Homo sapiens: one gene and its partners. The protein of the gene in region 5 purifies or fractionates together with the protein of the main gene of each other region. This does not show direct contact. Each region holds a gene or a part of one and is shown on either strand. Other genes may lie near its edges. The genes, in order: NUS1, DHRS7, ITIH2, SUSD5, ITGA8, DSC3 and OSTM1.

Region 1 (3,500 bases), on a different chromosome or scaffold from region 5:
ATGTAAGTGCAATGAGGAAAAGTAAAGCAGAGAAGGGAAGATAGGAATGTTGAAAGTCAGTGGTGTAGGAAGGGGTACAGTTTTAAATAGGGAGGCCAAGGAGAGGCTCTTTGAATATAGACTTGAAAATATAGGCCATGTGGATATGTAAGAATCACTCAGAGGGAGTATAGACATGTAAGCTTTATTTAGTGTTTCTTTTTCAGTGGTTTTTTTTTTTTTTTTTTTTTGAGACGGAGTCTCGCTCTGTCACCCAGGCTGGAGTGCAGTGGTGTAATCTAGGCTCACTGCAACCTCCGTCTCCCAGATTCAAGTTCTCCTGTCTCAGCCTCCCCAAGTAGCTGGGACTACAGGTGATGCGCGCCACCCCGCCCTGCTAATTTTTGTATTTTCAGTAGAGACAGGGTTTTGCCATATTGGCCAGGCTGGTCTCAAACTCCTGACCTCAGGTGATCTGCCTGCCTCAGCCTCCCAAAGTGCTGGGATTACAGGTGTGAGCCACTGCGCCCGGCCATATTCAGTGTTTCTAAATAAATGTCTATTTAAGCTTATTTCTAGATAGATATTTAACTATGAAAAATCCTATTGACATACTCGTAAATGCCACTGGGATACAAGAAGTACAAGAAATGGTGTCTCTTAAAGAGTTTCCACTCAAGTAAGGATGTCCATTAAAAATTAACACAAGCTAATATAGAAATGCTAAGTGAATGGCAGATACTTTAAGGAGCGAAAAATGGAAAATTTCCCGGGTTACCTCCATATTTGTCTGGTAAGGAAGGGAGCAACACCTGAGCTGGACCTAGTCAAAAAGATAGAATTGGGATTGGCGTGAACAGTGTTCTCTGTGTGTGTGAATGGGGATTTCCCTAATGGCAGCATTCTCATTAGACTAGGTTCAGTAATAGCATTGAGTAGAGTGTTGGGAGCAGTGAATTTATGTAATGAACAGTTGGGAAATGAGGTAGGATGAAGGCTTGGACAGCTATTCTGGTTACCTACTGCTTTGTAGAAATCTACCCAAAGCATAGTGTTTTAAAACAACAATTTATATATTGACTTAGTTCAGTTGGGCAGTTTTTCCTTTGGGTCACTCATAGCTTTCATTCAGATAGAGTCTGGGACCCAAAGGTTTCTCCTTATGTCTGGTGCCTGGTTTTTGATGGCTGAAATAGATGGGGCAGGTTGGTCATCTGGCTTCACATGGTCTGGAGGTTGACTTCAGGGTAACCAGTTAACTAACTTCCCCCAGAACAAATGTTTCCAGAGACTTGGCCAAAGGCTGAAGCTGAAAGATGTCTTAGGACCTAACCTAGGAAATCATGCAGTGTTATTTTTGCTATGTTCTCTTGGTCAGAGAAGTCTCACATCTGTTCTGCATCAAGAAAGTGGAGAAATGGACTTCACCTCTCAATGAGAAAATGGCTTGTGTAGAAAGGTTGGGTGAGGATTTGAAGGGAGATGGACGGGCAGCCACTTTGAAGACAAGCTTACCACCTTACATTTTATTCTGTCCTACACCCCTTTGCTCTCAAATTTGTACTTAAATTCGTTCTAATTATGGTTGGATCTAGATAACAACATTTAATCCTTAGACTAAAAGATCTATTATATTGACCTTAATTTGACTGCCAGCAAACTGATCTTTTTGTTTTTCACTACCTGCAATATTTCTTGATTATAATAGAGTCTGCAAGTAATTCTTTCATCTTTCAAAAATTCAGGTTGTTCTCTCAGGACAGTGATCAGGAATTTTTTGAGTTCAGAATTCTAGCGAGATTTGGCTGTTCTGTCTATATGATTATAATTTAAGAAATGACCATAACTGGGATGGTACAAGAACCAGGGGTTGGGGTAAATGGATTTTATTGTTCTAGCCTTAGCAGTGTTGTTTGCCTGTGTCTCACATGCAGGTACACTTGGCTCCAAGTTATCTGGATATGTATTGTTATCTTAAGTGATGGAACTTGTTCTTATTTCCTGGCTTTATTGTGCCTTGCTGGGAACCTTGCTGTTGATTGGTATTTTTCAAAACCTGTCTGTGGACCATCTGTGAATTAGTCATTGGGGATGCTTATAAAAAATGCAGATTCAACACACTTAGTAATCAAACTTAATGAGGGAACTGGGACCTGGGCGTCTCTGTTTTTATCAAGCTACCTGTATGATACTTCTGCACACTGAAGTTTAACCCTAACACAGATCAAAGGATACTCTGCTACTTGCCTTACATTAGATTATTTATATTTCATGTTCCTTTTCATGATTGAGGATAATTTGGGGTAAGCCTTAGGATTATTTGCTGTAAATTGGAATGATCCAGAATAAGGCATTGCCTTCTGTGTGAGAATTCAACAGTAAGACAACAAATTTTTTTTGTGTGCTGCTCTTTCTAGTGCTATTTCCTTAGTTTATTTAAATCGAAGCTAGGTTGCTTTTGAAATGGTTTTTGGGTACAGGTTTCTCACAGTAACATTTTAAAAGTCTGCCCAGTGTATCCTATCTTTTCAACCTGTTTCTCAATGCTTTGCATACCTTTTGCTATGTCTGTATTTAGGTATTTAATGTTCCAGTTTCCTGGAACTCCCTCTTCTCCTTTTTCTGGCAAATGGCTGTATGCCTACCAAGAGGCTATTGTTCATCTTTTCCGAGTCAATCCTAAATATCACCTTGTATATTTTTGCCTTTCTTGACTATTCACTCCGTTCCCTATCTTACTATATCTCTGAATCTCCTCAGAACTTCAAACATCTCTAAAGGTACTTCTGTTCTCTGCTTTGTGTAGTCATATTTGTATGTATATGTGCATAAACTTTCTTACTAGATTATAAGCTCCACAGATGCTATCCATCCTTCTCATTTTTGCTTTTCTTACAGAGTGTATCTTGGTGTTATGCATGTAATGAATAGTTAATATGTGTTCCTTGAATTCAAAGAAGGGCCGCATTTCCTGTAGATAAGAATAATGAACTGAGTTGCACTCTCTGCTTCCCAACACAATACCCAGAAGCCTTAAAGTAATGGAGGAAAATGAACATAGTTTACCCTAGTTTACTTAGTTGGCACAGTGACACAGATGCTATTGAGAAGTATGATTTTCTTAAGTTTATTCTCCTTATGTTGAAATACAGAGGTGCCGGAAATGTTGAAAGTCTAAATATAAATGTGATTACATTTGACATACTGAATAGTACAACCTAGTGTTTATCTTCCCTCATGTGGAAACTCATGTAAGGGAGCATTCTATTCTTAATCTCTACCTTTGTGTAGTTGACTTTTTGTACAGTTTCACATTTATCTTAACATCCTGAAATGTCCTCTTCACCTTTTTCTGGCAAAGGGCTAGCTACCTGTCAAAAGACTGTTGATTCTTTTCTTTTTTGACATGGAGTCTGGCTCTGTCGCCCAGGCTGGAGTGCAGTGGTGCGATCTCGGCTCACTGCGACCTCTGCCTCCGGGGTTCAAGCTATTCTCCTGCCTCAGCCTCCTGAGTAACTGGG
Region 2 (2,390 bases), on a different chromosome or scaffold from region 5:
TTATTGATAAGCGTCTAAGTTAAGAAAATGCTAGCATAGCTTATTTCAAGCTAATAGTACTTGTTAACTAGAATTTGCTTCTTTAGTCTGTATGTCTGGAACTTTGTTTTTATGAATCTTTATTATTTTTAGGGATCAAGAACAGTGGCTACACTGAATTTTGTATTATCATTATTATTATTTTGTCTTTCTTAGTGCAAAGTTTTGAAAGTGGTAAATGCATATCTTCTGAAAAGAAACATCACATCTTGGGGATTATCAGGTTGCCTTGTTTTATTCCTTAAGCAATATACAAAAAGTTCACAAATAATTTTTTTTTCTTTTTATTTTTTTTGAGACAGAGTTTCCCTCTTGTTGGCCAGGCTGGAGTGCAATGGCGCAGTCTCAGCTCACTGCAACCTCCGCCTCCTGGATTCAAGCAATTCTCTTGCCTCAGCCTCCCGGGTAGCTGGGATTACAGGTGCACACCACCACACCCAGCTAATTTTTGTATTTTTAGTAGAGATGGGGTTTTGCCAGGCTGGTCTCTAACTCCTGACCTCAGGTGATCTGCCCACCTCGGCCTCCCAAAGTGCTGGGATTACAGGCATGAGCCACAGTGCCTGCCTGGCCACAAATAATTTTAAAGAGTTATCTTCCATATATCTCAATTCTACATAATCTGACTCATTGTTTTTATTTATTAGGGCAAGTCAGTGTAGGTATGATATGCTGATCCAGAAAAGTCATTATAGAGAATTTAGCATTGCAGTCCAATGCTATTTATACCTCCTCTAAACCAGAGATGATGCTAAACTCATTAGAAGTACTTTTGTGTACATCTAGAATTTTGGCTATGATTTTTAAATTCTAATTTAAGCAGTTTCTGAACTTTTGTAAAGATTCTTAATAGTGAATCATAATGATACAGCTCCTCAAAACAGAAGGACTTAAATGTTAAAAACTGGAGTAAATAGGAGTAGGTACTGATCCATGTTTCTGTCCCTCTTTTACAGGATGCAGACTCTTCTTATTTTAAAATCTTTAAGACAAAACATGACTGAAAAGAGCACCTGTACTTTTCAAGCCACTGGAGGGAGAAATGGAAAACATGAAAACAGCAATCTTCTTATGCTTCTGAATAATCAAAGACTAATTTGTGATTTTACTTTTTAATAGATATGACTTTGCTTCCAACATGGAATGAAATAAAAAATAAATAATAAAAGATTGCCATGAATCTTGCAAAAAAGGTATTAACTCATACTATATTCTTGGATAAAATAACCTTTTAAAATACTTTAGCACATATGCTTAAAATCTAAGTTAACAGATTTGTCTTAGTCCATTTGTGCTGCTATAACAAAATACCACAGATTTGGTAATTTATAAACAACAGAAATCTGTTTTTCCTGGCTCTTGAGGCTGGGAATTCCAAGACCAATGCACCAGCAGAATTAGTGTCTGGTGAAGGCTGATCTCTGCTTCCAAGATGGCACCTCATTGCTGCATCCTCCACAGTGGAGGAATGTATGTCCTCACATGGTGGAAGGGACAGAAGGGAAAGAGGAGCAAAATGCTTTCAAAAGAGCATTTAATCTCATTCATTACTCAGTCACCTCTTAAAGGCCACATCCTTTAATACTGTTGCTTTGGGGATTAAGTTTCGACATGAATTTTGGAGGGGACAAAAACATCCAAACCATAGCAACATAAATGTATAGAATATTTCACACAAAGCAGAGTGCTGGGTAATGACCAGATATAAAGAAGTATTTGAAATGACCTTACCTCCAAGATGCTTATACTCTTAGAAAAGTTGACAGGTACAGATGGCTGTAATTTGAAGCAGCAGGTAGGATTCATTGCACCTATTATTCATTAAACACCTGTTGTATGTCTTCTACTGTACTGGAGTGCTTAGTATTAGTTAATTAACTCATTCCTCATAACAGCCCACTAAGATAGATGGTATTACCTACCTTGATAGATGAAGAAAGACCAACAAGGTTTTACTTTTCCAAGGTCAAGGTCACAAAGCTAGTAAGGGGTAAAGCCATGATTAGATTCAGCTCAGGAAGATTCCACTGGCAACTCCTTACTTCTACTATTATTAATTTTACTTTAACATTTAACACCTTACAGCAGAAAACATGCACAGGCACTAATAGGAAATCAGCAGGAGTAACAGGTAAAGAAAAACATGGTCCTTATCTACAAGCAGTTCACAATTGAGCTGGAGCCAAAGTAACATACATAAAATAACTGTAGAATAGTTGTTGGGCAAGTTGGAAGCCACCCAAGTGGCTGTCCTTGGAAAAGGGGGAAGATGACATGTGGTAGAGGTACACGATGAGGTATAGCGGGTAGAAGCAATGGAATAAATGCATACATAACAACATGGATATGTA
Region 3 (3,500 bases), 7.9 Mb from region 5:
GAACCGTTTTAATGTCTCTCAGAAAAAGGTTCAGTGACACTGGCCTTCTTTATTGCCTGCATAAAGCATAAAATGTTACTATCTTCAGAGTATCTTGGCAAGGCTGATTTGGATACTTTAATCTGGTGTTTAACAAGCTAACAGTCTGTGCTTTGAAAGGGCTAGTTCATCTCTAAGGGGATAGTTTATTTCAAAGTGAATATTTCACTGCACTGGGGGACCACCAGCTTGAGCACAGTTTGTGTCACTCAGAAAGCAATGAAATGATTTTGGCATGGAATAAGTGATGGATAAGTGATCAGCCGACATATGAGTCTGAATCCAGAATGGGATTTTCTGCGTGTGGCGAGAACGCATACCCAACGTTTCATTATGCTACTTCAACAGGCACAAACATCAACGAAGCACTCCTACGGGCAATCTTCATTTTGAATGAAGCCAATAACTTGGGACTGTTAGACCCCAACTCCGTCTCGCTGATCATTTTGGTTTCTGATGGAGATCCAACAGTGGGCAAGTGTCACTTCAACCTTCTCACGACAAACACTTTCACTGTTGTTTCTTGGAATGGTGGTTTGCCTAAAAGGGGAACTCTAATGGCATTTGCCTGAGTTTCTAGAACATTTTAAACCCATGCTTCCTAAAGGAGGTCTTCTGATCCTGCAGCCCTCACCCCTTAAGCTACTGCTCAGACACTTTCAGCAAGGGCGCTCTTGAATGCCTCAGTTCCACCTCCACAATATGCAGAAATCTGAGTCTGAATTTTAATAGTATGTTGTGAGGATTGCTGATGCATTCTAGGGAAATGCATCTATTTCCTCAACTTGAGGTATGTGAAGATGGTGTATGGGGGTGGTGAATGATGAGTATTGATCCCAGATCTCCCAGCAGTACCTTTGGAGGCCACAGTAGCATATTCCCTATTATTCTCCACACTTCTCCCGGTTGCACCTGGAGAAATGACTGCTCTCTGACACAACCTTGAAGTTAAACATTTTTCTTTCTACAAAATGGGCAGCAACATCTCCCTACTTCTATTATTTATTTTTATTTTTGTTACATTAGTTTATTTTATTTATTTTTGAAGACAGGGTCTTGCTCTGTCACCCAGGAGGGAGTGCAGTGGAGCACACACAGCTCACTGCAGCCTCAACCTCCCATGCTCAAGTGATCCTCCTACCTCAGCCTCCTGAGTAGCTGGGACTACAGGTGTGCACCACCACACTCAGCTAATTTCTTTTTTTTCTTTCTTTTTTTTTTTGGAGAGACGAAGTCTCACTATGTTGCTCAGGCTGATCTCAAAATCCTGGGCTCAAGCAGTCCTCCCACCTCGGACTCCCAAAATGTTGAGATTACAGGTGTGAGCCACTGTGCCAAGCTATCTTTGTTTTACTTGTGTCTTTATTCTGGCCACTGTAAGTAATAGCGAATGCCAGATTGTGTTGCCTGAGTGTGCTGTCGTACAGACTAGGACCGAGTCTAACACGTCCTGACACAGCCAAGCAGAATGAAAATGCACGAGGCAAAAACAATGGCAGTCAGAGCTTTAGAAAGCCAGAGAGCAACCATCTTATTAATAACGAGACTAGAATGAGCCAGTGTTATGTATTTGTTGTAGAGCCAATGTTTTCTCCCTCAGATCAGATTATTTTCAAAATTCAAGTTTTGAATGAAATCATAAGGTGGAAAAGGAAATATAGTTTAAAATATTAAACTTGCCAGGCATGGTGGCTCACACCTGTAATCCCAGCACTTTGGGAGGCTGAGGTGGGTGGATCACCTGAGGTCAGGAATTCAAGACCAGCCTGGCCAACATGGTGAAACCCCATCTCTACTAAAAATACAAAATTAGCCTGACAGGGCGGCGTGTGCCTGTAATCCCAGCTATTCGGGAGGCTGAGACAGGAGAATCCCTTGAACCCAGGAGGCGGAGGTTGCAGTGAGCTGAGATCGTGCCACTGCACTCCAGCCTGGGCAACAAAGTGAGACTCTGTCTCAAAAAAAAAAACAAAATTAAACCATAATTTGGTTTAATCATGGTTTCTCACTCCTGTTTCTCAACCATTCAGTTCCTGTCCCTGGAATCAGTCACTGGTTACCAGTTTCTTGTGTATCTTTCCACAAATAGTTTATGCATGCCTGTATACTATATATACATGTTTGCACACATGTATGTGTATATGCATACATACACATACATACATTTATACATGCATGCATGCAAATGCATCCTAGGTACCCTGATATTTACCTTGTTTTTTTTTTCTCCTCTAAACATGCCCTTGAGATTGTCTGGTATACATACATAAGGAGTTTCCATGTCCTTTTTAATAGCTGCATAGTATCTCACGGTTTAAATGTATCATCATCTAACCAAGCGCCCTCATTGGTGCATATTTATGTTGTTTCCAATATGTTGCTAATTCCCAAATAATGTTGCTATGCAACACAACCCACACTTCATTTCAACATGTACGAGTGCATCTCTAAGAAAAACTAGAAATTGAGTTACTGGGTCAAAAGGGAAATGCAGTTTTAATCTGGACACACTTTACTAAACTGCCCTCCCTGGATTTTCCAGAAAATTTATGATATTGCTTCTTCATTCCTTTCCTTTCGGACATCACCAACTTTAGGCGAACTAAAACTGTCAAAAATTCAGAAAAACGTTAAGGAGAACATCCAAGACAATATCTCCTTGTTCAGTTTGGGCATGGGATTTGATGTGGACTATGATTTTTTGAAGAGACTGTCCAATGAAAACCATGGAATTGCACAAAGGATTTATGGAAACCAGGACACGTCTTCCCAGCTTAAGGTAACATTTTCTTCTGTTCTTTTTTTATTCTTCACTGGAAATCATTTAACTACCCATATCTGATGCAGGTATGATGCATAACTGAACTTAACTCAAAATGGTCATGATCTCAGCCATATTTGGTTGCAAGGATCAGGGAAGTGCCCAGTTCCTTTCTCACATGTTTCCCCCCACCCTCATATTTCTGCAGTAACAGTGAGGTATGAGGCAGATGGGTGTTGGGAACAGCTGTCCTACCCCCTGAACAAAAAGGCCTTCTGAGCGTCATCAAAGCTCCTTGTAGCTCTCCTGCCCCACCAGCAATTGGTCTTCTTATCATCATGGCCAACCGTTTTCTCTTTAACGTGCATTGGCATCTTGGTATCAATTTTTCACAGTGTAAATTTTCTTAAGTATTAAGATACAGGCTGAGTGTGGTGGCTCATGCCTGTAATCCCAGCTCTTTGGAGGCCAAGGTGGGAGGATCACTCGAGCCCAGAGGTTTAAGGCCAGCTTGGGCAACATAGTGAGATCCATCTGTTCAACAGATAATTTTTTTAATTAAAATACATATATTGAAAAGACACAAACTACTTGTTTGTTTTGATTAAATAGATGAGAAAATGATGTAGGGAAAGAACATGTTTTTCCCTGCTCTTTGTCAGTACCAGGCATCGTATTTAAATTTGGGAACAAGTAAGAG
Region 4 (3,500 bases), on a different chromosome or scaffold from region 5:
TGGAGAGCAGTGGCACAACCTCGACTCATTGCAACCTCTGCCTCCTGGGTTCAAGCTATTCTCCTGCCTCAGCCTCCCGAGTAACTGAGATTACAGGCATGCACCACCACGCCTGGATAATTTTTTTTTGTATTTTTAGTATAAAAAGTAATTTTAGGGTTTCACCATGTTGGCCAGGCTGGTCTTTGACTCCTCACCTTAAGTGATCCATCTGCTTCAGCCTTCCAAAGTGTTGGGATTACAGGCATGAGCCACTGCACCTGGCCAAAAAAAATTTTTTTAATTAGCTGGGCACAGATGCATGTGCCTATAGTCCCAGCTATTCAGGAAACTGGGGCAAGAGGATCACTTGAGCCCAGGAGTTCAAGATTACAGTGAGCCATGATCATGCCACTGCACTCCAACGTGAGTGACAGAGCAAGACCATGTCTCAAAAAAATTTTTTTTTAACTTTTTAAACTTTATTGTTAAAAACTAAGACACAAACATGCACATTAGCCTAGGCTTACACAGGGTTAGGATCACCAATATCACTGTTTGACACCTTCACGTCTTGTCCCAGTAGAAAGTCTTCAGGGGCAGTAAGACACATGGAGCTGTCATCTCCTATTATAACAATGCCTTCTCTGGAATATCTCTTGAAGGACCTGCCTGAGGCTGCTTTAGTTAACTTTTTAAAAATAAGTAGTAGTACACTCTAAAATAATGATTAAAGTATAGTATGGTAAATATATAAACCAGTAACATAGTCATTTAGTATCATTATTGAGTATTTTGTACTGTACATAATTGTATGTGCTATACTTTTATACAGTTGGCAGTGCAACAGGTTTGTTTACACCAGCATCACCACAAACACATAAATAATACATTGCTCTATGATTTTACAATGGCTACATCACTAGGTGATAAAAATTTTTCAGCTCCATTATAATCTTACGAGACTACCATCATATATTCAGTTCCTCCTTGACCAAAATGTTGTTATGTGGCACATGACTGTAATAAAAATTAGAGTAGAAATCAGTAAAATTACAAACATAAAATCAATGGAAAAAAATGTTGGTTTTTTGAAAAGAGCAATAAAATGGATAAGCCTCTAGCCAGACTATGAGAGAAGATGCAAATTACTAATATTGAAAATGAAACCCCAAAGCAAGCCGTAAAACTTGGAAATACTATTATAGCCTTCTCCCACCTTTCTGTGTAGCACCCAGCCTGAAAGAAATAACTTGACCTACCTTGTTTGGTAATAGGTCATAAGACCTATATTCCAGAGAGGTTCTGCCTATATCTAGGAGAAAATAATGCTACACAGAGAGGCCAACAAGAAGCTCAACAAACAAACCTTGCTGGGTTTCCCCCTTTAGTATATTACCATTAGATCATACCCCTTTTGTCCAATCACATTTCTACACAGCTGTCCATTCTTCTTTGAATCTAAACATAAAAATCAACAGTTTTCCCTGGTTCTTCGGGTATTGATTTCTGAAGGCTCATAGGTCACATAAAACTGATTAAACAATTGGTTATGCTTTTAAAAAAAAGAGGGGACATCACTACAGATCCTATGGACATTAAAAGGATAATAAAGGAATATTATGAACAACTCTATGCCTACAAATTTGATAACCTACATTAAATTGTCCCATTGTAGAGAAGAAATGGGCAATCTGAACAGGCCTATAGCTATTAAATAAATAAATAAATTGAATCAATAACTAATTACCTTCCAAAGAAAGCACAAGCCCAGAGCGTTCACTAGTGGATTCTGCCAAACATTTAAGGCAGACATTATGCCAATTCTCTACAACCTTCCAAAGAAAGCACCAAGCCCAGAGGGTTCACTAGTGGATTCTGCCAAACATTTAAGGCAGAAATTATGCCAATCCTCTACAACCTTCCAAAGAAAGCATCAAGCCCAGAGGGTTCACTAGTGGCAGAAATTATGCCAATTTTCTACAATCTTTTCCAGAAGTTAGCAGAAGGAATACTTTCTAAGCCATTCTATGAGGCTAGTATTACCCTAACACCAAAACCAAACAAAGACATTACAAAAAAGACTACAGACCGGGCCAGGCGCGGTGGCTCACGCCTGTAATCCCAGCACTTTGGGAGGCCGAGGCTGGCAGGTCACGAGATTGAGACCATCCTGGCTAACACGGTGAAACCCTGTCTCTACTAAAAATACAAAAAATTAGCCGGGCGTGGTGGTGGGCACCTGTAGTCCCAGCTACTCGGGAGGCTGAGGCAGGAAAATGGCATGATCCCGGGAGGCGGAGCCTGCAGTGAGCCAAAATCACGCCACTGCACTCCAACCTGGGCGACAGCAAGACTCCGTCTCAAAAAAAAACAAAACAACAACAAAAAAAAAACTACAGACCAATGTATCTCATGAACATAGATGCAATTATCTTCAACAAAATATTAGCAAACAAAATTCAACAATGTATACAAAGATTTGTACACCAAAACCAAGTGGGATTTATCCCAGGTGTGCAAGGCTAGTCTTCAAAATTAATATGGTCCATCACATCAAGAGGTTATGGAAGAAAAATCACATAATTATATTGATAGATGCAGAAAAGGCATTTGACAAAATCCAACACCCATTCATGATAAAAACTCCTAACAAACCAGGAATAGAGGGGAACTTCTTCAACTCAATAGAAAACATCTAAAAACAAAAACAAAAACAAAACAAAAAAACCTACAGCTAACATCATGATTAAGGGTAGAAATTTGAAGCTTTCTTACTAAGATCAGAAACAAGGCAAGATGTCTCTTTTCACCACTGCTTTTCAGCATTGTACTGGAAATCCTAGCTAATACAATAAAATAAGAAAAGAAAATATAGATTGCGAAGGAACAACTGAAACTGTCTTTGTCTGCAGATAACATGATTGTCTATGTACAAAATCTGAAAGAATCAACAACAACAAAAAGCTGGAACTAATAAGCAGTTATAGTAACAAACCCGCACGTTCTGCACATGTATCCCAGAACTTAAAGTATAATTTTTTTAAAAAAAGCAATTATAGCAGGATTGCAGGATACAAGGTTAACGTACAAAAGTTAATCACTTTCCTGTGGACCAGCAATTAAATAGTGAAATTTTAAATTAAAAACACATTACCAGTTGTGTGCAGTGGCTCATGCCTATAATCCCAAGACTTTGGAAGGCCGAGGTGGGAGGATCACTTAAACCCAAGAGGTCAAGGCTGCAGAGAGCCATGATCCCACCACTGCACTCCAGCCTGGGCGACAGAGTGAGACCCTATCTCAAAAAAACAAAAAAGCCAAAAAACACCATGTTACCATTTATATTAGCACCCCAAGGAAAAATGAAATTCTTAGGTATAAATCTAACAAATTACGTACAAGATCTGTAGATCTAGATGAAGAATACTGTAAAACTCTGATGAAATATATCAAAGAAGAACTAAATAAATGGAGAAATAGTCTATGTTCATGGATTGTGAAGATGTCAGTTTTTCCCA
Region 5 (3,500 bases):
GTGTGTGTGTGTGTGTGTGTAATTAGAAATATATAGAGAAAATGATATTCGTTATCTGGGATTAGGTAAAGGAAGGCTTCTACTTTAGATTCAAAACTTTATTAACCAATAAATTACTACTATTTTCTATAGCTTTTCTTTAAGAGTATGTGCATCTGTCACAGGCCAGAGCATTGCAAACACAATAGGTAAGCATGTTTTCATTTTTACATTCTTATGGTATACTAAGAAAGTTGAACAGTAACCATTTCTCTGCACAGACCATAAAAAAATGAAAGAACCCTTGAGGAATACCAAGATATCTGTTGCATATATGGAACCTTCTAATAAATATTACTTCAATACTTGGTAATACTATTATTTATAAGAACATATAATTGTAGGGAAAATGACAACTTTTATAAAACCATTATAAAACATTTGTAGCTTGGAGAGTATGTTATACAATTTTTCCAGCTCATTTATCATGCTTGGTCTCAACTATGAAAAAGAACTGTTTCCTGAATAAGCAACTTGAAATAGAAATTCATCTCTCTGATAGAGCACTGTGTTCACTGAATACTTTTTCTCTACTTTACTTCTGTCCTTTAGTCTTGATGGCAGAGGTGCAATTAGATTCCCTGAAACAGAAAGGAGCTATTAAACGGACGCTCTTCCTTGATAACCATCAGGCTCATCGCGTCTTCCCTCTTGTGATAAAAAGGCAGAAATCCCACCAGTGCCAGGATTTCATCGTTTACCTTCGAGTAAGTATTCCAGAAAGACTTCTCTGGCCTCTCTCCTTCATATCCAAATTCCAACCATTTTTCTCCATTTAACCATCATGTTTGTCTGCATAGACCCCCATCTGTCTGTTTTCATTTTCATAGCAGGAAACTTTATTTTAGGGTCAAATACTCTCCTCTTGACCCTGACTTCAACTAACCTGATGATGTGTTGCTATTAATTTCTAAGGCTTCTTTTCATTTTGATCAAAATCTTTATAATGGCATTCAGCTCACATGGTTTTCATTTCTACCCACCTCCTCCCCAAAATACATAAAAGTGCAACACAGTTTATGTGAATTTTTCTCCTATGTGAGTATGTCTTGTTAGATTTTATCAATGCATGTTTCAGAGCCAATTCAGGAAAATATTTAGGCATTCAAAGCTTTTATTAGAAGTAACTTATAATTATCTTATTTAAAGTAATGTCTTTTTACAATGACTTCAAAACCTACCGAAATTTTAAAGTAAAAATATTTATAACACAATTACCTATCTTCACCTTGCCGGTTGTGAGGTTGTGATAACTGTCTCAATTTCTCTTTTCCATTAGGGGACTTAGTTAGCAAGGACCACCCTAGGGAAGATCACAGGTTCACAATCACACTCAAGAATGAAAAGTTGGATACCTGACCCTTGATTGGCAAACAATTGAAGGGTGACATATCCACCGTGTGTTTAGTGCTTGCTGTTTGGTGCTTACCCCTCTCTACTAAAGGAGTTCTGTTTCTTTTTCCAAAAGAACTTCAAATATCCTGAAGGTGTTCTGAAGTTCATGCAGGCAAGGGCTTAAAAAGATGATGAGAGGAAGAGAATCAAGATGTTTTCTTCTTCTGAGCCCCAAGAGAGAACTCATAAATTCTGGCAACCTCACGAAAATAAAAATCCAAATTCATGATGTTTTTTGTGACATTTATGATATACACGTGTAATCTTTTACTTTGCAACTTGACCAGTTCTGCATGAGTTGTTGAAGGTCTGGAGAACCCAAAGATTGGCTCCAGAAGCGTATTTCAATGAAGCCGCAGCTCTAAATGATTTCATCACTGCACATATATTAGGTATGCTGGCTACTATATACCACATAAATCAGCCTCCATCTAAGCCTGCTGCAAAGATAATTGTTTCATCATTCACTTTCATTGAGTAAATTCCAGTGTTGCCTGACTTTTGCAGACTGACATCTTGCAGCTATTTCATGGAGCCTCTGTTGAGTTTGTGATTATTTTTCCTAGGATGAAACTGAATTCCGAGATAAATTATCTCCAATCAACATTAGTTTGAATTACAGTTTGGACGAATCCACCTTTAAAGAAGGCCTGGAAGTGAAACCAATATTGAACTACTACAGAGAAAACATTGTTAGTGAACAGGTAAGTCCTTCACAGTCTTTGACGGCATTTTCTCAAGCAAGCTCTCTGGGGTGTTGTTCTCATGGCTTTAAGACTAAAGCCAGCTCCTTTCATTTTTACTTCTGCATGCAGACATGGAACATTTGGGAGTTTTCCTACCATGTTTCCTGAAACACTGCATGATTGTGTTTTTCGGAAGCCTTTCCTCTTGTGCAATCAAGATTTAATTTGTTCAAAATGTGGCTGTAATGGAAGCAATACAGCCTGTAATCCTCAAGCCATAGGCAGAGTTGCATTCTTTGCAGATATTTCAGAGTGCATTGGAATTGGGCTATTATGTAAAGTAGCCTGTATTGGGAGGTCACTGTGAAATGTAGGCTATTGGCTTGGGTAGAGTCATGCATAGTGAGAGGAAAGCTCTGGTTCCGTTTGTGGCACCATTCAGAATTTTCAAGAAAAAGGATGTGAATCAGATTTTCCTAGATTGTTCCTGACGTGCGTTTATACAACACAGGCTCACATTCTGGTGGACTGTGGAGAAGACAATCTGTGTGTTCCTGACTTGAAGCTGTCGGCTAGACCGTAAGTTTAAATAACTAAATGTGTACTTTCTATCTAATGGAATTACAGGTATTTATGTAAAGGTTCTCTGGAGAAAGTATACACTTCCAATAACTACCAAAAACTATGCTGCGTGAAATTCTTGAGCTTGGCTACACTTTGGGTTAGCCTGTGGTTTGGGTCAGTTATTTGTCATTGGTGTCAAATGACACACCCTAAGATTTTGCCTGGGTCGTTTCATCTTTCAGCAAAAGTGGGGAAAAAAATGTTTTTGTTGAAAGTAAACTCATTGATGGGGTGGCTCGGGTTATGTTTACTTGCCTCAGTCAAGTAGACAAAGGATTCAGACAGGCAGGTTCCATCTACACCTTCAACCAAACTTTTTTTCAGCACCCCATGACTCAAAGCCATCCTTAAAACTGTCAAAACAAAATTAATTTTAACTTATTGAATAAATAAACCTAAATAGCACTCTATGGAGTAAAGCAGAAGGTGTCACAAAATTGAAACGAATCAAAGGGCTTCACAGTTGCCAGTAATGGACGCCCCCATTCCAGCACTGGAAATTGCACTGTATTCTGTTATGGGAAGACATGGACTAGGATGTAAAACATTCTGTGGTCAAGAAACAGATTTGTGTTTCTTTCCCTCCCAGGAACTATCTCACTGCCAGTGTTTGGAATCTGCTTGGTAACTTCTCAGAGGGACTTCCCCCAAATTTCATAATTTATCAACTTCAAATGCAATCGCTTTAAGTAAGGTTAAAAAGTGGAGTAGGCATTTCCAACTATTGGCTTGATTTGCAGTTCTAAGTGAACTGCA
Region 6 (4,300 bases), on a different chromosome or scaffold from region 5:
ACTTTGAGAAGCTTTCTCTGAGGTCATGCTGGAGGCACGTGGAGGATGGGAGGTGAAAACCCTGGAGTGGAGAGAAGTTTGGAGAACTTTCTCTGAGACTGGAAGAGCTCTTACATACAGAGACCTCCACTGACGGGTGCCTGGGAGATTCACACTGGGAAGCTCAACTTAGAGTGTCTGAGCCCTTAAAGCTGAGCCTCATGAGTTTCAGGGAAGCCCCAGACTTCAGGGAATACATGGCTTAGACGACGAGGAGTCTATTAGACTTGAGCCAGAGTGAGATGAATGAAGGTCATAACACCCTTTCATGATTAATTGGCTGTCTGAAATTCCCGACCTTGCAACTTTTGAATGGACTTCGAGGAGTAGCATCTCATGTCTGAGAGGGATTTCCTCCTGAATCCAGTAGATGGGAACTCGGGGAACTTAAAATTCAGTTTAGGGAGAAATAAGAGGATGTCCCCCTGGTGTTACAAACGACATCTCTATTAAAAAGTGTAGCCTACTGGGCTAGGAATGATTGTCTTTCGTCCCTTTCTGACTTTGAATTATTTCCGACAGGAACTAGATTTTCTGCATTTCCTTTCTTCCATGCCCTCACACAAAGCTTGGCCGACTTCGGGCCCTGATAAATAGTCGTTGCATGATGTAGAATCTGTAAGCCTCGTTTTAGAAGGTTTTGTGTGGTAGATATTCCTTTGACCACCTGAAAAATTTCATTTTGGTACCAGTAAGTAGTAAACCAATAATTCACATCTAAGAACAAAGTCGTTTTTAGAAGGTTCATATGAGTCCCCCAAACTGACAGTTAATAGAGCGCTGAGTGTAATCACTCATATTTTGGGTGCGTAAAAATGGTTAGATTAGAATTTCTTAAATTTGGTTTTAATTTCTGACATGCCAAAAACTGTTTATCATGCCATCTGGGATAAATTCCTTCTGTCGTGTATTTTGTCATGTTAGTCAAATCCGGAGAGAATACAGTACATGTATTTTGCTTTAATCTGAAAACATTGGCAGAATTTGTTCAGACGTCGAAGGGGAGATCCGCTGATCCAATGACAAGGGTGTTCCTGGCATCCAGCAGAGCCCGTGTCGAGGCAGGGATCCCTGCGGGCGGATTGGGGTTCTGCATTGAGATGCACCGCGCAGCGCCGGCGATGGGGCCGCCCTGGGACGATCTGGGCTGCCAGGGCCTCTCTGCGGGCCGGGCGGGGCGGCAGCGCCGCGGGGCAGCCGAGGGGCGTGGGAGAACTGGCAGAGGGTGCGCCAGAGACCGCTTTCCCGAGCGCGAACGCCCGGGTGGCTGCTGGGGAGCAGAGGGGCAGGCTCGGGCAGCTCCTCAGCCGCGCCGGCGATGATAAAACTTGAGAAATAACAAGGAGTGGCCTCTCCGCGTCCTCTGGGTCCAATCCGGTTTCAGAAGTGAAGTTGCTCCCGGGCAGGCAAGCCTGAGAGAGGCCAAATACACTTAAAAACAAGCAGCGGCGAGAAAAGCACCTCCCGCGCCCTGCACCTCGGCAGGTCTCGCTCTCGGCACCCTCCCGGCGCCCGCGTTCTCCTGGCCCTGCCCGGCATCCCGATGGCCGCCGCTGGGCCCCGGCGCTCCGTGCGCGGAGCCGTCTGCCTGCATCTGCTGCTGACCCTCGTGGTAAGCCAGATCTCGCCGGATAGGGCTGGGGTGGGGACGGGGGTGGATCCGCCCTGGACGCTGCACGGAGCTGGGGACAAAGCGGGCCGAAACGTGACAACCGCGGCTCAGATCAATGCTGCGGGTCTGGTAGCAGCCCCAAGTTCGGGCCTGCAGGAGTGAGGAGAGAAAACGTGTGTTTGCGGGTCGACTCTGGACTGAGCTTTTTGTTTTGAGACAAGGTGTTCGATTGTTGGAATTCTGAGTCGCGCTCAGGCTTCGCTGCGCTCTGGCGGGCGCCGTCGCGGGTTGGGCAGGGGGTTGGGATTCACGCTTCTCCCCAGGTGGTGGAGCTGGTGGTGATGGTGGTTGGAGGGCGCCTTTGGGTGGAGAGGATCCCTGAGAGCTCAAAGCACAGACTTGAAAAGGGATTTAGGGGCTGCCCCCTCCCCAGCTCTGGGTCGCAGTTGACCCGGATTGGTTCGTTAGTGAGTGGAGCCGGGGCTGTGTCCCTGGGTCCCTTGGTGGGGCTGCCCCTGAGAAGTGGGTTTCTCGGTATCTCCCCTAAAGGGTATTCAGAAGCTCACCCAAGCGGTCCACCCCCGCCAGCCACCCAGCTGGGGGCGGGATGTGCCGGGGGCGCGAAAGTGTGGGAAGACCGGGCCAGAATGGGGGTTGGGGTCGTGTTGTGTTTTGGGGATGCTGCCGAGGTGTGGAGGCGGGTAGAGGGTGACAGTGGTGGGGGATGATGGATGCGGTGGGGTTGCGTCGTACTTACTCCGGCTCCGGGGAGGACTGCGCGGCCGGAGCACAGCCTGGGGTTTCGAGTCTACGGAAACCTGCCGCCCAGGACGAAATCCTCTAGGAGAGGAAGTTAGAGACGATGCTCTGAGAACACGGGAGACTTGAAGTGTTCGGAACTCTGGCGGCGCGGTTACACGCGAAGCTTCAGGCTTCAACAGAGTTTCATTCCGCACGCCCAGAAAGGAGCCGCGGACCCGCGACTTACCCGCATCCATGGATGCGCATGGGGTCCGATGGGAGCGAGGTCTATACCCGCGTCGGCAGTGAGCCGAGTCTGGTCTCGCGGATTCTTACTGCTTCCTGGCCCTCCACCCTGGCAAGTGGGAGTGGGTCCAAGGGTTGTCCTCCCTTAAGGTCAGCGAGGTATGAATATGGGATTGGTAGTTATGATCTACGATATGTTTATGGAGAAGGAATTGGACAAATAAGCGCATCCATTTGCCCGGGAACTGTTCCAACAAAGTATCTGAGCTTATGAAGTGACTACAAATGGAAACGGCTTAGAGAATGTGTTCTTTTGTAATATATTTAAAAGCATTTTCAGCTTTTCAGTTTACAAGCATGCATTTGGGGTTTTGTGTTTCCTTTGCGAAGGGATTGAGGATGGGGAACGAAACTACGGGTGCTGCTCTCAGAATTTCTCGCATTCGCTCGAGGCTCCCAGAGGCCATGGAAGACCAGGAGCTTTCCCGGCAAGGCATGGGTGGGGGTGTCGAGCTGTGGCAAGGAAGAAGGTGCGCGTAAATCTAAACGGAGGAAGCTTCAGCTTTGATCTAGCACATACTCGTTTAAGATTTTTTTTTTTTAAAATAATTCCGTTGAGTTTAGGTTAAATGCTGTATCTGGAGACTTAAATACCGGAAAGTGCACAGAAAATGACTATTTCATCTGCAATTGTCAGTTTACAAACACTTGCAATTTCGGACCGGATGGGTAAATTAACACTTCTCTTGACCATCTCATGTATGTATTTCCTTCCTTTTGACTCATACGACTCTCAACTTTTCAATATAATATTAATGACACGGCATTTTAGAAACATTTTTCATTTTATAGAGACTTTAATGGATATCTTTAAACCATTACTTATCTTTAAAACATTGTTTGTTCTAAGGAGACAGCTTTTCAAAGCAAGTCTTTAACAAGAATCTGAGACTTGTTAAATTTTAGTCTTCCCAGTAAGCAGCCCAACAGGTTGAGGGAATTTTCCCATTCTGCATTTTTCCTGTATCTCCTTCCCACCGTGTGCCCCACCACACTCTGAAGTGTAAATACAGTTTCTAATAATCACACGCACAAAGAAAAAAATGACAGGGAGATACTAAAAAAAGAAGTATATCAGAGCATCTCACTCACTATTGTAAGTTTTTGATTGCCTCAGAAAGTGTTTTTTCCTCTTAATGTAACCAGAATTGTTAGGGATGGTGGAAACTAATTTACATGAGATCAGTTGTCTTCTGCCTGTTACAAATAATAAGATTCTTTTAAAAATATGTGTTAATACTGTTATCAAATCCACTTTAAGATTATGTTATCTAGTATACATTATAAATGGCACATACTTGGACACGGCTAATCCATCATTTTGTTAAAAGGGCTCCTCTTCTAAAGGAACTAAAATAGTTGAAACGTTTGCAATAACTCCCCTCAAATCTGTACTTTTCCTCTTTGGAGTATATGAACTCTGCCTGCAACCTATGTTGATAAATAGGCATCCAAATTTTTATATTTGTTAGGGTTAATGTGAATAATGTGAGTCCTTACCAGAAAAACTTGTGATGTTTTTGCTCTTGGTAATATTTGATATATTCATCATTTTAAATTAAAAGGGAGTATAGTAATTTCTAAAGGCTTTTACATTTGTGA
Region 7 (2,833 bases), on a different chromosome or scaffold from region 5:
GCCTCAGCCTCCCAAAGTGTTGGGATTACAGGCAGGAGTCACTGCACCCAGCATCATTCATTTTAAAGCTCTGAAATCTTTTGATTGCATTGGGGTACTGAGATGGATTTTTTTTTTTTTTTTTTGAGACAGGGTCTTGTTCTGTCACTCAGGCTGGAGTACAGTGGCACAATCTTGGCTCACTGCAACCTCTGCCTCCTAGACTCAAGCGATCCTCCCACCTCAGCCTCCTGAGTAGCTGGGACTACAGGTACACACCATGATGCTCAGCTAGTTTTTTAATTTCTTGTAGAGACAAGGTCTCACTATATTGCCCAGGCTGGTGTCAAACTCACGGGCTCAAGTGATCCTCCCGCTTCAGCCTCCCAAAGTGCTGGGATTACAGGTACCAGTCACCACACCCAGCAGATTTTAAAAAATACCTGTTTATCACAAGAAAAACATATTTAAAAAATCATCATTGCAAAGCTCCACACTGTAAGAAGCATGGATCAGTCAAATTATCTTTTAAAAGCCCTCTTTAATTCCAAGGAGATAAAGAAAGTTATTTGTCATTAAACATGTTACATGTATGACTAATATTTATTATAGCTAATATAATAGTTTAGAACAAGGAAATTTAGTAGAGTTGTAACATTTTGGTGCTACATGTATAATTCAGCATAAGCCAAAGCCTTTTTAAAATAACCAATACTATCATTTTATGAAATCTTTACAAGATAAGCACAGTAGTACAATATTTAAGCATCTCAAGTCTCCATTTAAGAGTTGACTATCAAAGAATGACTGTTATAAATAAAGAGCTCTATGATGTTCCACTTATTTAGTCTTAATAAGGTAGGGAAATAAGTGACATACTTTTTAGAAGAATCCATGCAGTGGACAGAAAGTCAGATTAGGTAGTCCCTAGGGATCCATCCAGCTCTGGGAATCTATCATCAGATGGCCTCTAAGGTTTCTTCTAGCTCAGAAAATAGAGGTACTTGGAACATAATTTTTTAAATTTTAAATGGTTATATAGGTTAATAGTATTTTTTGCTTTTCAAAATTCATTGCTGGTGATGTCTATTACTTATTTGATGTCATGTCTTTGGCCAGGAATGCAATCCTAATTAGCATTGTTCCAGGAAAACATTTCATTTTATAGGGAGCATATCCCAGAAACATTAGAAAATACTAGTCCCAATATAAGTAACATTTACCAACTAGACTCTGGGCTACACTTTAAAATATCTGATGTTCAGCCAGGTGTGGTGCTTATGCTTGTAATCCCAGCACTTTGGGAGGCTAAGGCAGGAGGATCTCTTGAACTCAGGAGTTCAAGACCAGCTTGGGCAACATAGTGAGACACTGTCTCTACAAAAAAAAAAAAAAAAAAAATTAATTATAAAAAAAAAAGAAAAAATATATCTGATGTTATTTCTATCTCTCAAGTTCAACAATAAATAATCCAAAGTACATTTTTATTTGCAGCAAAATTTAAGACAGACAGTACTTTCTTTTTTCTTTTTTTTTTTTTTTTTTTGAGACAAGGTCTGGCTCTGTCGCCCAGGTTGGAATGCAGTGGTACAATCTTGGCTCATTGCAACCTCCACCTCCCGGGCTCAAGACATCCTCCCATCTCAGCCTCCCAAGTAGCTAGGACTACAGGCACTTACCACCATACCCAGCTAATTTTTGTATTTTTTGCAGAGACAGTGTTTCACTATGTTGTCCAGGCTGGTCTCGAACTCATAAGCTCCAGCGATCTGCTTCAGCCTCCCAAAGTGCTGCAAATACAGGTATGAGACACTGTGTCCAGCTGATGGTACTCATAAAAGTAGGCATCTAAACTCAATACCTGAAAAACAAATGTGATGTTAAATTACATCTGAAATTTTAAAAATGTATTTAAAAATCCAAATAAAGCTTACAATTTCCTTATTTCCTTTATTTTAATGTGTCAAAAAAACACTTAAAGATATTCTTGTAAATACATATAAGCTGTGTGTCAACATTCAGTACTATGCAAATCATTTTTCAATATGACAAAATGAAAAACTTACACACTTTAGGGTAGCGCTTAATACTTATCTTTGAAATCTATTGCTGATGCTAGGTCTAAAGAGCAATGACTCAACCAGAAAAAATAGTAAAGGCTGCCTTTTCCTTTTTAAAGTGCTTATTAGCTTTATATCCAAAAACAATGGTTTTTACAAATACATAATACTGAAAGGTGCTCAAAAAGTCACCACTTACAGAATTGAACATGTCATTTTCTAACTCTGCACATGTAAACTTGTTTTATCTGCATTAATGAAGATTGCTTCAAATGGCTCTCAATCATATGCTTCAAATCAAGACAGTGCTAAGTTCCAGCAGCATAAACAGTGACAGCAGAACAAACCCCAGCACATTTTCAGTGGATCACAGCAGATCAGAGAAAGTGTAACAGCTTTTGAGTATGTTATACATCCAAGAGCCTTATATTTCACTCCACATAAACAGTAAACATAAAAGAAAAAAGAAACACTTTGTCTCCCTATAGAGCATTTTATAGTATAGGAAGGGATTCAAATTCTCTTTTTAACAAAATTCTTGTTTCTATATAGAGGAGATTTTATATTCTTAATGTTTACAACAAAGCCTATTTCCACCAAAAAAGCAAGAAGAAATTAATAAATGAAATCCTGAACTCTAAAAACCTAAGAAATAAAACTGTGAACAATTCTGAAACGGAGTGTTTTTTCTAAAGGCTAATACAAACATACCAAAATAGAATTTCTGAGCACGAACTATGTGATTTCATTTCAATCGTATCACTTTCATCTGATTGAAATAATTTAGAAACAAT

Evidence for each region.
Region 1: the proteins of ITGA8 (region 5) and NUS1 purify together in Homo sapiens (affinity purification with mass spectrometry; one large-scale study listed by BioGRID and IntAct). This does not show direct contact.
Region 2: the proteins of ITGA8 (region 5) and DHRS7 purify together in Homo sapiens (affinity purification with mass spectrometry; one large-scale study listed by BioGRID and IntAct). This does not show direct contact.
Region 3: the proteins of ITGA8 (region 5) and ITIH2 purify together in Homo sapiens (affinity purification with mass spectrometry; one large-scale study listed by BioGRID and IntAct). This does not show direct contact.
Region 4: the proteins of ITGA8 (region 5) and SUSD5 purify together in Homo sapiens (affinity purification with mass spectrometry; one large-scale study listed by BioGRID and IntAct). This does not show direct contact.
Region 6: the proteins of ITGA8 (region 5) and DSC3 purify together in Homo sapiens (affinity purification with mass spectrometry; one large-scale study listed by BioGRID and IntAct). This does not show direct contact.
Region 7: the proteins of ITGA8 (region 5) and OSTM1 fractionate together in Homo sapiens (co-fractionation; one large-scale study listed by BioGRID). This does not show direct contact.

Annotation. Positions count from the first base shown.
Region 1 is NC_000006.12:117,678,469-117,681,968, forward strand, and holds part of NUS1 (dehydrodolichyl diphosphate synthase complex subunit NUS1), read left to right. Parts: intron 1-3,500. UniProt on the Homo sapiens protein: With DHDDS, forms the dehydrodolichyl diphosphate synthase (DDS) complex, an essential component of the dolichol monophosphate (Dol-P) biosynthetic machinery.
Region 2 is NC_000014.9:60,143,619-60,146,008, reverse strand, and holds the end of DHRS7 (dehydrogenase/reductase SDR family member 7 isoform 1 precursor), read left to right. Parts: exon of another isoform or gene 1-995; coding exon 996-1,043; 3' UTR 1,044-1,890; downstream 1,891-2,390. UniProt on the Homo sapiens protein: NADPH-dependent oxidoreductase which catalyzes the reduction of a variety of compounds bearing carbonyl groups including steroids, retinoids and xenobiotics.
Region 3 is NC_000010.11:7,727,316-7,730,815, forward strand, and holds part of ITIH2 (inter-alpha-trypsin inhibitor heavy chain H2 precursor), read left to right. Parts: intron 1-387; coding exon 388-513; intron 514-2,636; coding exon 2,637-2,818; intron 2,819-3,500. UniProt on the Homo sapiens protein: May act as a carrier of hyaluronan in serum or as a binding protein between hyaluronan and other matrix protein, including those on cell surfaces in tissues to regulate the localization, synthesis and degradation of hyaluronan which are essential to cells undergoing biological processes.
Region 4 is NC_000003.12:33,177,311-33,180,810, reverse strand, and holds part of SUSD5 (sushi domain-containing protein 5 precursor), read left to right. Parts: intron 1-3,500.
Region 5 is NC_000010.11:15,604,923-15,608,422, reverse strand, and holds part of ITGA8 (integrin alpha-8 isoform 1 preproprotein), read left to right. Parts: intron 1-132; coding exon 133-188; intron 189-591; coding exon 592-746; intron 747-2,000; coding exon 2,001-2,138; intron 2,139-2,631; coding exon 2,632-2,699; intron 2,700-3,500. UniProt on the Homo sapiens protein: Integrin alpha-8/beta-1 functions in the genesis of kidney and probably of other organs by regulating the recruitment of mesenchymal cells into epithelial structures.
Region 6 is NC_000018.10:31,039,943-31,044,242, reverse strand, and holds the start of DSC3 (desmocollin-3 isoform Dsc3a preproprotein), read left to right. Parts: upstream 1-1,500; 5' UTR 1,501-1,582; coding exon 1,583-1,651; exon of another isoform or gene 1,652-1,801; intron 1,802-2,408; exon of another isoform or gene 2,409-2,710; intron 2,711-4,300. UniProt on the Homo sapiens protein: A component of desmosome cell-cell junctions which are required for positive regulation of cellular adhesion. Required for cell-cell adhesion in the epidermis, as a result required for the maintenance of the dermal cohesion and the dermal barrier function.
Region 7 is NC_000006.12:108,040,909-108,043,741, forward strand, and holds the end of OSTM1 (osteopetrosis-associated transmembrane protein 1 precursor), read right to left. Parts: 3' UTR 501-2,833; downstream 1-500. UniProt on the Homo sapiens protein: Required for osteoclast and melanocyte maturation and function.